3 linked regions of the Homo sapiens genome follow. The protein of the gene in region 1 interacts with the protein of each later gene in a biochemical or structural test. Each region holds a gene or a part of one and is shown on either strand. Other genes may lie near its edges. The genes, in order: COPG1, COPZ1 and COPE.

Region 1 (3,747 bases):
GAACCTGCAGCTATGTTACCTTGCATGGTAAAAGGGACTTTGTAGATGTGATTAAATTAAGGATCTTGAGCTAGGGGTTATCCTGGATTATCCAGGGGGGGCCAGTGTAATCATAAGGGCCCTTCTAGGGCAGAAGGTCAGAGTAGAGAGATTTGAAAAGGCCAGGAGTGTGGCCTCTTCAAATCACTCTACTCTGACCTTCTGCCCTAGAAGGGCCCTTAAAGACGGTGGAAGGGGCCACGAGCCAAGGATACGGGCCACCTCTAGTAGCTGGAAAAGGCAAGGGGGCAATACCTGGAGCCTCCTGAAAGAACTCAGCACTGCTAACAAATGAAACCCACTTTGGACTTCTGACCGCAGAGCTATAAGGTTATAAATGTGTTAAGCCACTAAGTTTGTGGTAACGTGTTACAGCAGCAATAGAAAACTGATATAAATGGAAAGTTTCATGTTATAGCGATCCCAATTAGCTCAGGATCCATGCTATATTGATATAAGACATGATTCTGAGTGTAATGGGGAAGGGGGGATTTCATTTAATTCAACATTAATTGGGAGCCTACTGTGAGGAAGGAAGGCACTGGGCTCAGTGCTGTGATAGACGCAGAAAATAAAAGACAGAACATGTGAAGAACTATTTAGCACAGAGGGCTGTTTAAGAGAAGACAGAAGAGCTAGGATGGAAGTGAGGGCCCATGAAGGAAGAGGGGTCTATGCTTTTATCTACTGAATTCAGTGGATAAAACAATCTGCAATTAGACACACAGCCTCTCCCCTTAAAAATGCAACACCAGAGGACAGATGGATACCTGAAGAAAACCTTACAAGACAATGTGGACAGAACACACGTGGAACCCGACAAAAAGTACCAGTGTCTTTGAATCCCAGCACTGCTCTCTCAGACATTCTGAACTGGCCTGGGCTCCAGGGACCCGAGCCCTCCAAATTGAGGCCCAGTAACAGCACTGAGCCAGTTTGATCGGGACCTTAATTCCAGCCCCTCCTACTACTTTCTCTCTCTGAACTTCCAATTCCTCAGATATTGAAGGAACCCAACAACCACCACCTGAGGGTCAAATGTGATAGTAGGTCTAAAGCATCTCAAGGGCCTAGCACTCAGGAGAGACCAATATATGACAGTTCTTACTCTTGAACCCCCTGAGGAAACTAAGCCCAGGTCCCAAGCATCCCCCAACCACTGTGACTCACCCTGGAAGATCTCCTGCCTGGTAGCTGCCACTTTCTCAGGCTGTTTGACTGCTGTGATGGGGGTACTTTCTGCAGGAGCAAATTATACACGTGATGACCAACAGCTGGAGTCACGGGGCAGTGTGGTGGTGACCCCAGTGCTATTACTCAGGGATTATAAATACTAACCCTCCTGAGAGTGGGAAGCAGAAGACATGTGAGAGAGCCCACGTCTGTGTGTATGTGTGTCTCTATTTTCTGGAGCCAGAGGTGGAAAAGATCATTTCCTCCTCCCAGCATAACTGCCACCCACCCTAGTTAGGTTAGTGGCTTTGCAGCCAATGCAGACCCTCCAACAGAGGCCTGGCCTTGATGGCCTCTGGGAGGAGTATAAGTGTTACCTGTTCTCTGCTCTGCCATGGGCGCCGTGGCCAGGGGCACAGACTTGAGGTCAAAAGGTTTTTCTGATGGTTCTAGAGTGTACTGCTGCAGAGCCCTCTCCAGACCAGGGATGGACACAGTCAGACCTGGAGGTGAAGAGAGGTCACCATGCCTGGCAGATAGAGCAAAATGTGCACCAGGGACCACCATGGAGGCCCTGGGGTCCCGAAGTTACAAGTCCTAAGTAGTATGACCCTGAGAAAATCACTTTATTCTCTAAGCCTCTGCATTCTCAGACACATCCTCCCTTACAGGGTAGGTGTGGGGAATAAACATATATACAAAGTGACTTGTAAAGGGTAAAGTACTGTAAAAATAAAGTTTTTATTAATGATGAGCGTTTCAATTCACTGGACAATTTCCACCCAATTCAGGTGTGACCTGAATGACCCGGGACCTCCTGAGGTCACCATGATGCCATGAGGTTGCCAGGCAAGTCCAGCCAAGAGCATCTTGCCTCTGATTTCCCCTGCCCAGGGAGTGATGAGAACCACAGCTCCAGTAAGGTGCTGAGTCCAAGATAGCCAGGGAATGACTCACCATTTAGGATATAGCCTGCATTAAGGGCCTTCTGCTTCTGCTCCAGGACATTTAGGTAGAAGGTGGCTCGGTCCCTTACTTCATTGTCATCATCCATCACACACCTGCAGCCAGGACACAAGGTGGTCCTGACTGGGACCCAGCAGGGATGGCAGGAGGGATCCTGCATGGCTTCATTAGAGGTAAGTCCATAGGGATAACAAGTAGACTAGTGGTGGCCCCAGGCGGAGGGTGGAGGGAGTGAGGAGAGGCCACACTCATGAACACTGAGTTCCCTTTGGGGTGATGAAATGTTTTAAACTCAGGTTGTGGTGATGGTTCCATCACTCTGTGAATATGCTAAAACCCATCAAACTACACATCTTAAATGGGTAAATTGTATGGTATGTGAATTATATCTCAATAGAGCTATTTTTTTTTTGAGCTGGAGTCTCGCTCTGTCACCCAGGCTGGAATGCGGGGCATGATCTCGGCTCACTGCAAGCTCCATCTCCCAGGTTCACACCATTCTCCTGCCTCAGCCTCCCAAGTAGCTGGGACTACAGGCACCCGCCACCACACCTGGCTAATTTTTTATATTTGTAGTAGAGACGGGGTTTCAGCGTGTTAGCCAGGACGGTCTCAATCTCCTGACCTTGTGATCCGCCCGCCTTGGCCTCCCAAAGTGCTGGGATTACAGGCGGGAGCCACTATGCCCGGCTTCAATAGAGCTATTTTTAAAAAATGGACAAAATAATTCAAGTTACCAATTGTCACATCTGGTTGGTGCAATTTGCACAGCATTGTTTTTCATGCTTTTCTATGCTTTCTCTTTTTTTTCTACAATCAGTAGCTGTATAACTTTTCTCTCCCTTTTCAGTTAAAAAAAAATAAAGACAAAGGAAAGCTGCTTGGGTCCAAGGGAACACTGTCCCCATTAGGGCCCCTGGGCCTAGACTCACCTCTTCAGCAACACCAAGATACTGGGTAACATCTCTTCATTCTGGGCTCCAAACTTCGCCAGAGCACTCACAGCACCTGTGTTTAGGAAGCGAATGTGATTTACCCAATGCACCCTGACAACTCACTGTTTGGGCACTTCCAGCACTCAGAATGGGTCTTCAGGCAGAAGAGCCCCAGAGGCAAGAAGTCTCAAGCCAGGAGGCCCAAAGTCACTACCAACAGAGTGAGTGGCTTTGGGTGGATCTTGGCACCATCCCAGGCCTCAACTTCCTTATCTATTTAATGGAGAAGGGCGCCAGATGGGATTAGTAGCTCCCATTCTAAGGTTCCAGGAGCTAATTTCAAATTAACCATGATGAGGTCACAGAAGCTGGCTATAATGTAAAGCTCCTCACCTTCCATATCCAAATGGCGTCAATTTGCAGTTAAGGCTCAGAATAATAAAAATGAGAAAGGGAACAATTACTTAAAGATCATTTATTGCTGAAAGAAGAAAATCTGTCCAGTGGGGGCATGAAAAGAAATTAAAAATAAAGAATAGGAAGGTTGCTCACTGAATTGTAAACTTTATATAAATGGGTGAATTTTATGGCATGTGAATTATATCTCAACAAAGCTTTTTGTTTTTTAGCTAAA
Region 2 (3,747 bases), on another chromosome or scaffold:
AGCTTTCCCTACTTGAATTCTTGAGGACTGCAATTTTTGTTTTGTTCGCTGGTTTGTCCCATTTGTCCAGAACAATGCCTGACACATACTAAACTCTCAATATTTGGTGAATAATTCAGAGAATAAAGGAAGTTTGAGAATAAAGTTAAAATACCTTGACGCAGTATGCATCTAAGGGACTACTTATAATTAGACCTCCACATATAAGTGGATTTTCTGATGTGGCCACTTTGGGTGATATTACTACCAACTTTATCCCTCCTCTGATAAACACTCCTTAGAGATGTCCATCCTGTATATATAACACTCTGGAATAAACAAGGCATGAGTAACTCCTCTCTCAAACTAAAGAACTTTGTTGCCTAGTGGAGGGAAGTCCTCTAGAGTCTAGTCTTAAAAGGTCACAAGTAGAAGCAGCTCTCCTAACTCCTAATTCCTCACAGAAAGATCTTCCTGTAAAGCAGGCTCAGTTCTATAACAACTTGGGTCCTCAATTCCAAAAGGGAGACAACAATGGGAATGAGTTTTCTTAATGGAAGAAAAGAAGTCCAAAAGGAACAAAATTTAGACGAAATCATTTTTTCCCACAACCTTTTCCTGGAAATCTTTGGCTCTGTTCCTCTATCCACATTCACAGCAACTTTAGAGAGCTGCCCATTAGTTTAAGCTGGGCATTAACCTGGCATAGGAAACTGGTTCTTGCAGCCATAGAGTTTGGCATCCCTAGAACCCAAAGAAAAGCAAAGCCCTAATGGCCCCCAGCCAACTGGGAGAGTCAGACAATGTCCTTTGTGGCCAACAGGGTGTGAGTGCCTACAACAGCCACACCGGCAAAGAGAGAACATATCCCTGGGTTCTGCTCTTGGTTCTTTTCACTGGCTTCCTAGAAGACATTATCAAAGAAACCCCAAAAATAGAAACATTGGATCTTCCTGGGAAGAATAAAAGACAGGCTAAGGAGGACAAGGATAAAGACTAGATTTGACATAGAGCTTACTGGAGCTCTCAAAAGGGAAAGAAGGCATTACAGAAAAGGCTGGTCATTTCAAACTTCCAAAGGAGGAAGCATACTAAATAAAGCTGAGAATTTAGGCAGGCGCTTAAATGCCGCTTCAATTCTCCATTCTGCTACAGCTGGAGCCAGCAGCTTCTTTACTTCTCCTGCCACCTCCTGACTGCAGCTGGTTCCACTTCAGCCTGGGGCTTTTACCTCTCAGGAGTGGGGAGGGCTATGCCATAAAACTAGCCAGTTTAAAGGCCCCAGAAGTCATTACTGATAATGTAATTTCATTTTAAGTTTTTGCAAAGGGCAAGTTTATAAATAACTCCCAGCTACTGAGAAATGGGCTTCCAGGACAATGGACTAGGCTTGACCTTGTAACACATTAAATGCTGACTGTTGAGAAAGACCTTATCAGCTTAGGGCCACACTGAAAGAATTTAAAAGGTCTATTCTTCCCTCCCACTCCCAAAATGGGTAGCTGCTAGAAAGCTTTCGAGACAAAGTTCTGTGATGCACTGACTTTCAGAGAGCCACAGCCTGAGTGTATAACAGAACTTCACCTCAAATGCTAATCGTGCTTGGAAATGATGTATAGGCAGATTGTTTTGTGGGAGATTGGGTGACTTAGACAGATTTTCATGTATTTATGTTTTTATTATCAAGAAAACAAGAATGCTGTCCTCAAGACAGGTGAAACACCACAGAACAAGCAACTAGGCTGCTGCAAATGAATCTTTGATCTCAGGGGCTTCTTTTTTTTTTTTTTTTTTTTTTTTTGCGACAGTCTCTCTCTGTCACCCAGGCTGGAGTGCAGTGGAGCAAACTCCGCTCACTACAACCTCCACCTCCCGGATTCAAGTGATTCTTGTGCCTCAGCCTCCCGGGTAGCTGGGACTACAGGCACACACCCCCATGCCCAGCTAATTTTTGTATTTTTAGTAGAGACGGGGTTTCACCAAATTGGCCAGGCTGGTCTCGAACTCCTGACCTCATGATCTGCCTGCCTCGGCCTCCCAAAGTGCTGGGATTACAGGCGTGAGCCACCGTGCCCGGCCTCAATCAGGGGCTTCTAAAGCCTGGTGAAAAGCATCAACATCTCCAAGAACTCTCTCCCCTAGCGCATAGAGGACTAGAGGGAAAGAGTCATTCCTAGTGCTGCCCCCTGTGGGCCTTCTCGGTGACCTGCAGCTTCCACAGGATTACAGTCATAAGCAAAAATATTTTTCAAAGGCAGCTCTGGATAAGAGCTTTTTTTTTTTTGAGACGGAGTCTCGCTCTGTCGCCCAGGCTGGAGTGCAGTGGCACGATCTCAGCTCACTGCAAGCTCCGCCTCCTGGTTCAAGCTCTCCTGCTTCAGCCTCCCGAGTAGCTGGGACTACACGCACCTGCCACCATGCCCGGCTAATTTTTTGTATTTTTAGTAGGGATGGGGTTTCACTGTAGCCAGGATGGTCTCAATCTCCTGACCTCGTGATCCGCCCGCCTCGGCCTCCCAAAGTGCTGGGATTACAGGCGTGAGCCACCGCACCCGGCAAAAGCTCTCTATTTGTGTGTCTTGTAGGACAAACTAGTAGAGATGGGCCCTGAAAAATAAGTGAATTAAGTCTGTTCACAATGTATATAGTAAGAGAACTCTTTGGGGTAAGATCTTAGTAAGCCACCAGAAGACTGGGAGAATATGTTTGGGGAAGGTAGAGAGGATACTTGGAAACTATAATGAATTATTTGATTCATTTAGGGGAAAAAACCAAGAAGCCTCTATGGAGGGAATTACAGGATGCCATCTACAGAGCTGAAAGAGCACAAATAAGAATATGGAGGCCAGGCGCAGTGGCTCATGCCTGTAATCCTAGCACTTTTGGAAGCTGAGGCAGGAGATCACTAGAGCCAGGAGTTCAAGACCAACCTGGGCAACACAGTGAGACCCTGTCTCTGCAAGAACTTAAAAAAAACAAAAATTAGCCAGGCATGGTGGCATGCACCTGTAGTCTCAGCTACTCAGGAAGCTGAGGCAGGAGGATCGCTTGAGCTTGGGAGTTCAAGGCTGTAGTGAGCTACAATTGCGCTACTGCACTCCAGCCTACACAAAAGAGTGAGACCGCCTCAAAAAAAAAAAGAAGCTGACTGAGATCACTAAAAAGTTCTTCATTGTCTACTTAAAAATAAATCCTTCCAGCCTGGCCAACATGGTGAAACCCTGTCTCTACCAAAATTACAAAACTTAGCCAGGCATGGTAGCAGACGCCTGTAATCCCAGCTACTCAGGAGGCTGAGGCAGGAGAATCGCTTATACCTGGGAGGCAGAGGTTGCGGTGAGCTGAGATCGCACCACTGCACTCCAGCCTGGGCGACAGAGCAAGACTTCAGATCAAAAAAAAAAAAAACATTCCCTAAGGCCATACCAAAAGGGCCTGATGTGGCATTACCCTGATGTGGCAATGGGTCTTGGTGAATTAAAAACTGTAACAAGATTCTCTTGTCTCAATCCTGTTTATAAAGTAAAACTAAGAAGGTAAAAACTAGAAGGAGAAATTCCTAGATACCACTCCCAGCTCCAAATGGCTAAGTAGGTATACTTCCTGACTCTGTGCCAACACTTTTTTTTTTTTTTTTTTGACAGAGTTTCACTTTGTTTCACTTTGTTGTCCAGGCTGGGGTGCAGTGGCACAATCTTGGCTCACTGCAACCTCCGCCTCCTGGGTTCCAGCAATTCTCGTGTCTCAGCCTCCTCAGTAGCTGGGATT
Region 3 (3,747 bases), on another chromosome or scaffold:
ATCATGTTGGTCAGGCTGATCTCGAACTCTTGACCTCAAGTGATCTGCCCGCCTCAGCCTCCCACAGTGCTGGGATTACAGGTGTGAGCCACCACGCCTGGCCAGGAATACTTTTTTTTTTTGAGACAGAGTCTAACTCTGTCACCCAGGCTGGAGTGCAGTGGCACAATCTCAGCTCACTGCATCCTCCGCCTCCTGGGTTCACACCATTCTCCTGCCTCAGCCTTCAGAGTAGCTGGGATTACAGGTGCCTGCCACCACGCCCAGCTAATTTTTGTTTTTTTGTTTTTGAGATGGAGTCTTGCTCTGTTGCCCAGGCTGGAGTGTAGTGGCATGATCTCAGCTCACCACAACCTCTGCCTCCTGGGTTCAAGCGATTCTCCTGCCTCAGCCTCCCGAGTAGGTGGGATTACAGGCGTGCGCCACCACACCTGGCTAATTTTTGAGGAATACATTTTTTAAGCCATCTGGTCTGTGGTAGTTCATGACAGTGGCCTGAGCAACCTCAGCCCCACCTGAGGTGGCCCCAGGGAGAGCACCTGGCAGTCTTTGCCCTTTGCTGCCCCCAGCACTAGGCTACCATCATGACGTTTCTGGGTTTCTGACATTTGCCAGTTTGCCCACAAGATGGCAGGCACCGCCCAGCTGTTGGGGTTGAAGCAGCTCATAGGCCTTGAGTTGCTGACGGCCCAGTGCGGTCAGATCACTGGCTACAGGGACAGAAGGGAGGAGTTACTACCCCCAAGGTTTCTGGCTACAGGGCCCCCATCCTGTCACCCGCCTTCCCAAACAGTACCCTGATTCCTCAACCATGGCCACATCTTAAGCCACCTGGGGCCAGTGCTGGGGCCATCCTAGGGCCAGGTGACCTTGGTGGATGTGGCCTCCTGGCTTTGGTGGTTCCTGGGCTCCCAGGTGATCGTAGTGAGCCCTTGGGGTTGAAGAGCAATGCTCTCCCACCCCGGGGACACACATGCGTCCTGATGGTAGGATCGTCCCTGGAAGTCGAGGAAAACCACAACGGTTCCAGAGCCTCACGTCAGGGTCACGGTCTGCACATTTGTTGTTGTTATGCTTCCCGGCACTCTTGTCTCTCCAGTGCACTCTGCAGCCTCTGAGCACTTCCGCACGCACAGTCTCCTGGGCACCTGCATTTCACACAGGGGCGGCTGAGGCCACCCTGGTGCCCCCGATGGCGCCCCACTGTGTCCTCACTTTGAAAGCCCAACAGCCAGCTTTTGTCTCTTTTTTTTCCCTAAAGATAGACAGGGTCTCACTCTGTCACCCAGGCCAGAGTGCAGTGCAGTGGCATGATCATAGTCCACTGTAGCCTCGACCTCCCAGGCTCAAGCGATCCTCCTTCATGAACCTCCTGAGTCGCTGGGACTACAGGTGCATGCTACCACACCTGGCTAATATTTATAATTTTTTTATGGACACAGGGTCTCAGACCGGGCACGGTGGCTCATGCCTGTAATCCCAGCACTTTGGGAGGCCGAGGCGGCTGGTTCACAAGGTCAGGAGTTCAAGACCAGCCTGGCCAATATGGTGAAACCCCATCTCTACTAAAAATACATATAGTCGCGGCTACTCGGGAGACTGAGGCAGAAAAATCTCTTGAACCCAGGCGGCAGAGGTTGTAGTGAGCCGAGATACACGCCACTGCACTCCAACCTGGGTGACAGAGCAAGACTCCATCAAAAAAAAAAAAAAAAAAAAGACTATGCTTTTTGCTATGTTGCCTATGCTGGTCTCAAACTCCTGGGCTCAAGCAGTGCTCCTGCTTTGGCCTCCCAAAGCACTGGGTTTACAGGTGTGAGCCACCACACCTGGCCTGTCTTTTTTAACTGAGGGTGGCATGTGGCCCTGGGCTAGTCACCTAACTGAAGTCCACCTCAGAAGGTTGATTGAGAGTTACTTATTTATTTTTTATTGAGATGGAGTCTTGCTCTGTCACCTAGGCTGGAGTGCAATGGCGTGATCTCGGCTTACTACAGCCTCTATCTCCCGGGTTCAAGTGATTCTCTTGCCTCAGCCTCCTGAGTAGCTGGGATTATAGGCGCCCGCCACCACACCTGGCTAATTTTTGTATTTTTAAGTAGAGGCGGGGTTTCACCATGTTGGCCAGGCTGGTCTGGAACTCCTGACCTCTAATGATCCACCCACTTCGGCCTCCCAAAGTGCTGGGATTACAGGCATGAGCTACCATGCCCGGCCTATAATATGTTTCTTTGCATACTTGAAAAGGTACATATTTCACCTGTCCATCCCATTTGCAGGTGGGGCTCGATTTCTGCAGCCACCACCCTCCGCATGCCTTTGACATTCTTCTAGGAGTTATTTATTTAGATGGCATCTTGTTCCAAATCATAGCCAGATACCCACTCTGGCTACCAGGGCCTGAGCAGAAGCTGCTGGGTCCTCTTGGCAATGGCAGCCTGAGTCAGGCTGGGGCCAGGTCTGCGGCGGCCTGGGATGAGGACACGTTTGACATCCACGCTCCTCCCTCAGGCTGGGGAGAAGGAAGAGATGTGGCTTGGAATCTGTGGTTCTCGGCTTCAGAGGACAGGGCAGAGTGACTCCCCCTGGTTTGGGCACTGGGTCCTTTGACCCTGTGCCTTGACAGCTGGCAGGCCCTCTTGCTGACAGCCTTCTCAGTCCCCTCTGTTTAGAGGTTGTTGGAGTGGCGATGCCAAGGTGGCTGGGCCCCTTCCCAACTGTACTTTCCTCTCGAAGCCCCCAGGGGCCTGGGCGAGCACCCTCAGGCCATGGGCTGAGCTGCACTGTGCCCACCTGCCATGGGCACCCTGGGAAGTCAGCCAGCCTCCGGGGGCAGCATGCAAAGCTGTGTTCTGGAGAGCGGTCCCAGCCTCCCTCCCTGGCCTGGGCTCAGGGGCAGCTTCATTATCATCCCAAAATGGATGTTGCCACAGGTTACCTCCCTCTTGCTCCTCAGTTCTGTGCAATGGCTGGGCTGTGGGGGTGTGGCCCAAGTACAGAGCCATTCCCAGGGTCTCCCCTGGCCAGGGCTGGGCACAGATGTCACCACACTGGGGCAGCCAAACTGAGCTCAAAATGTCTTGAGACAAAAGCAGAACAGAATCAAGCCACAGTGGCCCCATGTCCAGAGGTTAGAGGTGCGGGTGCCACCCTGGCTTCTTAAGTGTGACTGGGGCAGACACTGAACTTGGGAGCAAGCCTCCTTCCTGGGGTGGTGTCAGCGCGGGATGAGATCAGGCACCCCCCGTGTAGGGTACCCCCAGCAGAGGCCACTCGGGCTACGGAGGATCAGGGCTGGGACTCAGACCTCCAACCCTGCCGGAGAAGCCACCTGTCCCCAGTGTACAGGGGCCTGTCTGTCATGCTCACCCTGTGTGGGCTGCGCTGGGCCTCCCACTGTGCGTCCTGACTCACATTGGTTCCCACAGCTATCAAGCCCAGAGAGAGACGTGGAGAGGGACGTCTTCCTGTATAGAGCGTACCTGGCGCAGGTGAGTGCGGGCCTTGGCCGGGGGCAAGAGTGATGAACAGAGTAGAGGGTGGGGCTGGGGACAGGAAGGCACCACAGAGTGGGTGGCGGGGACAGTAAACAAAGCAGGGACCCAGGCCTGCAGTGTTCAGTGACTGTGAACAGCCAGCGCAGCCAGCATGTGAAGGTGGCTGTGTCACGGAGGCCTGAGACTGCCAGGCCAGGGGGCCTGGGTCACAGCTTCTTGATTTTTTTTTTTTTTTTTTTGAGACGGAGTC

What was found.
Region 2: the proteins of COPG1 (region 1) and COPZ1 form a complex in vitro, tested with the Homo sapiens proteins (one study listed by BioGRID).
Region 3: the proteins of COPG1 (region 1) and COPE form a complex in vitro, tested with the Homo sapiens proteins (one study listed by BioGRID).

Annotation. Positions count from the first base shown.
Region 1 is NC_000003.12:129,266,463-129,270,209, reverse strand, and holds part of COPG1 (coatomer subunit gamma-1), read right to left. Parts: intron 3,187-3,747; coding exon 3,111-3,186; intron 2,274-3,110; coding exon 2,170-2,273; intron 1,716-2,169; coding exon 1,590-1,715; intron 1,279-1,589; coding exon 1,210-1,278; intron 1-1,209. UniProt on the Homo sapiens protein: The coatomer is a cytosolic protein complex that binds to dilysine motifs and reversibly associates with Golgi non-clathrin-coated vesicles, which further mediate biosynthetic protein transport from the ER, via the Golgi up to the trans Golgi network.
Region 2 is NC_000012.12:54,335,053-54,338,799, reverse strand, and holds part of COPZ1 (coatomer subunit zeta-1), read right to left. Parts: intron 1,585-3,747; exon of another isoform or gene 1,486-1,584; intron 1-1,485. UniProt on the Homo sapiens protein: The coatomer is a cytosolic protein complex that binds to dilysine motifs and reversibly associates with Golgi non-clathrin-coated vesicles, which further mediate biosynthetic protein transport from the ER, via the Golgi up to the trans Golgi network.
Region 3 is NC_000019.10:18,912,728-18,916,474, reverse strand, and holds part of COPE (coatomer subunit epsilon), read left to right. Parts: intron 1-3,428; coding exon 3,429-3,491; intron 3,492-3,747. UniProt on the Homo sapiens protein: The coatomer is a cytosolic protein complex that binds to dilysine motifs and reversibly associates with Golgi non-clathrin-coated vesicles, which further mediate biosynthetic protein transport from the ER, via the Golgi up to the trans Golgi network.